Regions from separate parts of the Homo sapiens genome. Here region 2 is linked to region 1. The links come from fine-mapping of genetic effects on gene expression. A gene starts in region 1. The other region holds a variant in brackets. All regions are shown on one strand. Distances are between the middles of the regions.

Region 1 (2,904 bases):
AGGCCAGATGCAGAGGAGGAGGCATGGGGTTTGAGGTTAGACGGGTCTGAGTTCAAGCCCCAGGTCTGCCACTTCCTGGCTGTGTGCCCTGGAACAAGTCACCTTATCTCTCTGAACTTCTTTTTTTTTTTTTTCTTTTTGAGATGGAGTCTCGTTCTGTCGCCCAGGCTGGAGTGCAGTGGCATGATCTCAGCTCACTGCAAGCTCCGCCTCCCGGGCTCACGCCATTCTCTTGCCTCAGCCTCCCGAGTAGCTGGGACTACAAGCACCCGCCACCACGCCCGGCTAATTTTTTGTATTTTTTAGTAGAGACGGGGTTTCACCGTGTTAGCCAGGATGGTCTCAATCTCCTGACCTCGTGATCCGCCCGCCTCGGCCTCCCAAAGTGCTGGGATTACAGGCATGAGCCACCATGCCTGGCCATCTCTCTGAACTTCTGTTTCCTCATCTGAGATGACAGTCAGAGTGGGATCTGTGTAAGGCACTTTGCACCTTACACATTTTTACCCCCACGGATTCCCACAAAAGCCTTCTGAGGCAACAGTCATTCTCATCAGCTCCGTTTCTCTCTCTCTCTTTTTTTTTTATCAGCTCCGTTTTTCAGCAGAAGACTCTGATGCACAGATAGACTGTGTAACCTGCACAAGGCCACACAGCAGGGAAGCGGCGGACCCAGGATTCAAATTGAGGCAGCCCAGCCCACAGACATTTGCAAATCTTCAATGAAATCCTTTATGTAGGCCAGGCACGGTGGCTCAGACCTATAATCCCAGCACTTTGGAAGGCTGAGGCAGGCAGATCATTTGAGGCCAGGAGTTCAAGACCAGCCCGGCCAACATGGTAAAACCCCGTCTCTAATAGAAATACAAAAATTAGGCCGGGCGCGGTGGCTCACGCCTGTAATCCCACCACTTTGGGAGGCCGAGGCGGGTGGATCATGCGGTCAGGAGATCGAGACCATCCTGGCTAACACAGTGAAACCCCGTCTCTACTAGAAATACAAAAAAAAAAAAAAAAAGGCGGGCGTGGTGGCGGGCGCCTGTAGTCCCAGCTACTTGGGAGGCTGAAGCAGGAGAATGGTGTGAACCCGGGAAGCAGAGCTTGCAGTGCACCGAGATCACGTCACTGCACTCCAGCCTGGGTGACAGAGCGAGACTCCATCTCAAAAAAAAAAAAAAAAAGAAATACAAAAATTAGCTGGGTGTGGTGGCACATGCCTGTAATCCCAGCTACTCGGGAGGCTGAGGGCAGGAGAATCGCTTGAGCCTGGGAAGCAGAGAGGTTGCGGTAAGCCAAGATTGTACAACTGCACTCCGGCCTGGGCGACAGAGTGAGACACTGTCTCAAAAAAAAAAAAAAAGAAAAAGAAAAAGAAATAAAGAAAGAAATCCTTTATGCAAAAGGCAGAGTAAGTAATGGACAAATGTGGCTCCCTTCCTAGCACATCTATTTCTGGTTAACCTCGATGATCCCAAAGGGTGAACCTGGGAATGGGGAGTTCTGAGGAAATTCTACAGAAACAGCCTTGTGAGGTCCTTTGTGGGGGGCACGCTGTGCTGTGGGGGTTCTGGAAGGAATCCGTGGGAGGCTGGGAGGAAGATCTGGCTTGTCAGCTTCCCTAGGAAAACCTTCCCCTGGGCTGGCCGCAGGCTGTAACCGGATTCCTGCTCCACCTCTGCATCTGGCCCAGGGACCTCATGGCAGGGAGGCCCAGCGCCTGGCCCTTTGCCCCTGGACGGGGTGGGCCCTGGGTCATGGTGGGGTGGGTGGGGAGGTCAGGAGGGCCATGGGGAGGGGGCGCGGTGGGGTGCTTTGCCCTGAGAACACAGGCCTCTGGCACCCCGGAGCCCCCGGCAGCTGCTGGCGTCTGTCAGCCACCTTGCGGGGCGCGGCCGGGGGCTGCTGGCCCCTACATCTTCCTGACAGGCCCCTCTTCTGAGGCCAGGAAAAAACAACAACAGTTCCTCCCCTCACGGCAACCCATTTGTTAGATGAAGGCCGGGCACCAGCACCTTTAACCTCCTCAAAGTCAGCGTTTCCCTGTCAAGGCCCCACAGGGCCAGAGACAGAGATGGATGGAAGGAGCTGTGTGTCGAAAAAGCCCTGTGGCCTCATGAGGAGAGCTCTGTTTTCAGGAAGGGAGGGGACCCCGGTTTCTGATTGTTGGGGAGAATAAGGGGAGGAAGAGGAAAAGTGTGAGTCACGAGGAGGTCCCCCAGGGGCGTGGGGGGGCCCAGGAGGGCTTTCAGCCTGGCCACACCTGAGCCATCACGTGGAACTTGCGGAATGTCTCCCATTGTGCGTGGCAGGCAGGCGTGTACTTGGCAGGACAGGGCTGCTTCTGTTTGTGGCCACCCCACCCCCTTGTGCTTGGAGAGGCAGGGTGTCAGGGCAAGGCCCTGGACCTGGAGGCAGAAGACACGGGTTCAAGGTGTGACCTTGCCTGTTACCGGCTGTGTGGTCTCAGGCAAATCACACCCTTCTCTGAGCTTCATTTTTCTCACTGGCAAAATGGAGTTGACAGTTCCGGCCTCACCTGGCGGTTAGGAGGATAAATGAACTGCATCTGAGAACAGAGCTGGCTGACTATAAAGGGTGATGCATGTGAGGAATAGCTTGTCCTTAACTATGCTGAACCACTGGGCAGGACACAGCACAATGTAGGTGAAGACGGCTCATCCCAGCCCCCAGATACCTTCTATGGCAACATAACACAAGGGTCCAAATCATGGCCTTGGGAATTGGGGGCCTGTGGGTTCAAACCTCAGCTCTGTTTTTTTGTTTTTTGTTTTGAGACGGAGTCTTGCTCTGTTGCCCAGGCTGGAGTGCAGTGGTGGGATCTCGGCTCACCGCAACCTCTGCCTCCCAGGTTCAAGCGATTCTCCTGCCTCAGCCTCCCGAGTA
Region 2 (2,904 bases), 9.1 kb before region 1:
AGCAACAGCAAGACTCTTGTCTCAAAAAAAAAGAAAAAGGAAAAATTAAAAATATGGTCAGGTGTAGTGGTTCACACCTGTAATCCTAGCACTTTGGAAGGCCGAGGCAGGAGGATTGTTTGAGGCCAAGAGTTCAAGACCAATCTGGCCAACATAGCGAGACCCCTGTCTCTATATTTTATTCTAATAATAAATAATTTTTTTGGAAAATTAAAAATATAATTACTACATAATATAGCAATTTCCCTTCTAGGTATACACTCAAAAGAATTGAAAATACACTCTCCAGCCGGGTGCAGTGACTCACACCTGTAATCCCAGTGCTTTGGGAGGCTGAGGCCAGTGGATCACGAGGTCAGGAGATTGAGACCATCCTGGCTAACACAGTGAAACCCCGTCTCTACTAAAAATACAAAAAATTAGCCAGACGTGGTGGTGGGCGCCTGTAGTCCCAGCTACTCGGGAGGCTGAGGTAGGAGAATGGCATGAACCCGGGAGGCGGAGCTTGCAGTGAGCTGAGATCGCGCCACTGCACTCTAGCCTGGGTGACAGAGTGAGACTCCGTCTCAAAAAAGAAAAAGAAAAAGAAAATACACTCTCCAGGAGGTATTTGCACACTCATGTTCATTGCAGCATTATTCACAACTGCCAAGAGGTGGAAGCAACCTACATGTTCATCAACAGATGAATGGATAAAGAAATTTGGTGGCCGGGCACAGTGGCTCACGCCTGTAGTCCCAGCACTTTGGGAGGCTGAGGCAGGCAGATCACAAGGTCAAGAAATTGAGACTATCCTGGCCAACATGGTGAAACCCCGTCTCTATTAAAAATACAAAAATTAGCTGGGCGTGGTGGCGTGTGCCTGTAGTCCCAGCTACTTGGGAGGCTGAGGCAGGAGAATCACTTGAATACGGGAGGCGGAGGTTGCAGTGAGCCGAGATCGCGCCACTGCACTCCAGCCTGGCAACAGAGTGAGACTCCGTCTCAAAAAAAAAAAAAAGAAGAAAGAAATTTGGTATATCCATACAATGGAATGTTATTGTCTTCAGAAAGAAGGAGGCCAGGCATGGTGGCTCACACCTATAATTCCAGCACTTTGGGAGGCCAAGGTGGGAGGACTGCTAGAAGCCCTGAGTTCAACACCTGCCTCGGCAGCATAGCAAGACCCTGTCTTTCTAAAAAAAAAAAAAAAAAAAAAAAAAAGAAGAAAATCCTGTCACTTGCTACAACCTGGTTGAAACTTGAGGACATTATGCCAAGTGA[C/A]ATAAGCCAGTCACAAAAATGACAAACATTGCATGATTTCACTTATGTAAGGTATCTAAAATAGTCAAATGTTTAGCAAGAGAAAGAATGGTGATTGCTAGGGGGTGGGGGAAGGGAAAAAAGGTCGTTGTTTAATGGAGATAGAGTTTCGGTTTTGCAAGATTAAAAGTTCTAGAAATCGATTGCACAACTACTGTACTGTATCACTTAAAAACTGTTAAGACGGTAACTTTTATGTTATGTGTATTTGACCCCAATTTTTAAAAAAGGAGATTTCAAATATAAGATGTCCCAGGTAAGAAACCTCAGAAGAGTTCCTTTATGAAACAACTGCAAGCTAAAGTGAGAAAATCAACACAGATTCTAGCAGATACTAGACTTCGACATTTCTTAACTGTAGCTTTCTTTGATACTATGTTATATGCAAATGTAGCTATAAATTTTTGAAAAAGAAGAACAAAAATATTCTTGGAAGGGGTTGTTTTTGAGCTGGGTGGTTTTTAAGTAGGACTTCAACAGGCAGAAGTACGGGGAAGGGGAGAGTGCTCTAGGCAAGGAGAAACCACCAGAGCACAGTCAGAGAGGGGGAAGAAAATGCAGGATGTGTTTGCAAGGTCAGTCCCTGGGTGTGGCTTCGTGGCAGGGGTAGTGGAGGGGACCTGGGGCGGGGAGGTGGCCTGTAAAGGGGCATCAGGAGGGAAAAGAGGAGAGAGGCCTATTTGTGGAGTTTTATACCTTAGGCAAATTTGTGGTTGGGCGGAGGCAGGCATAGAGCAGGTCTTGCAAAGAGAAATTGGGGCAGGACAGCTCTGGGAACACACGTGTTGGAGCTGAAGAAGGATGAGACAAATCACGTCTGATTAAAGGCATGTCTCAGCAGAGTGAGGACGTGAGAGCAGGAGGGAGCAGTGCTGAGTTCTAGCACCATGGCTTTCCCAGGCGGGCGATCGGATTCACCTGTAGCCACTCTAATCACACGCAACCTTCCCTTGAACCCCATGAGGAAACCACCGCAAAATCCTTCATTCCCATAAATTAAAGACAACCACAGTAGCAAGGACAGTTTGGGGGAAAACAACAGTGGCCTCACAGCTGTCCCTGCCAGCAGGGGTCTTTAATCCCCATTGGCCTGGGGCTGGGAGTGGTTTGGGTAAGATAACACCATGCTGGTCTCCAGGGTGGGGAAGTGCCAAAGGCCAGGAACCCTGCTTTCTTTCTTTCTCCCCGTTTGTTCATTTTCTTTCTTTCTTTTTCTTTCTTTCTTTCTCTTTCTTTCTTTCTTTCTTTCTTTCTTTCTTTCTTTCTTTCTTTCCTTCCTTCCTTCTTTCTTTCTTTTCTTTCTTTCTTTTTCTTTCTCTCTTTTTCTCTCTGTCTCCTTCCTTCCTTCCTTTCTTCCTTTCTCTCTCTCTTTCTTTCTTTCTTTCTTTTTTTTTTTTTTTTTTGATGTAGTCCCGCTCTGTCACCCAGGCTGAATGAAGTGCAGTGGCGTGATCTCTGCTCACTGCAATCTCCACCTCCCAAGTTCAAGCTATTCTCCTGCCTCAGCTTCCCAAGTAGCTGGGATTTACAGGTGCCTGCCACCACACCTGGCTAATTTTTTTTTTTTTTTTTTGTATTTTTAGTAGAGATAGGGTTTCACCA

Evidence for each region. PIP is the estimated chance that this variant, and not a neighbour inherited with it, causes the effect. A credible set is the group of variants that fine-mapping cannot tell apart.
Region 2: its variant is the best candidate, but not a certain one, in a credible set for the expression of LINC02594 in whole blood (TOPMed, PIP 0.60).

Annotation. Positions count from the first base shown.
Region 1 is chr17:43,663,592-43,666,495 of GRCh38, forward strand. LINC02594 (long intergenic non-protein coding RNA 2594) reads left to right here and starts at 1,273. Exons shown (of 4, transcript NR_184089.1): 1 at 1,273-1,408. RefSeq lists an enhancer at 2,055-2,580.
Region 2 is chr17:43,654,484-43,657,387 of GRCh38, forward strand. The region is part of intron 1 of MEOX1 (mesenchyme homeobox 1); the gene reads right to left. Among named protein-coding and RNA genes, the nearest start is that of MEOX1, 6.0 kb to the right of the region's middle. The variant C/A (reference allele first, on the strand shown) is at 1,264.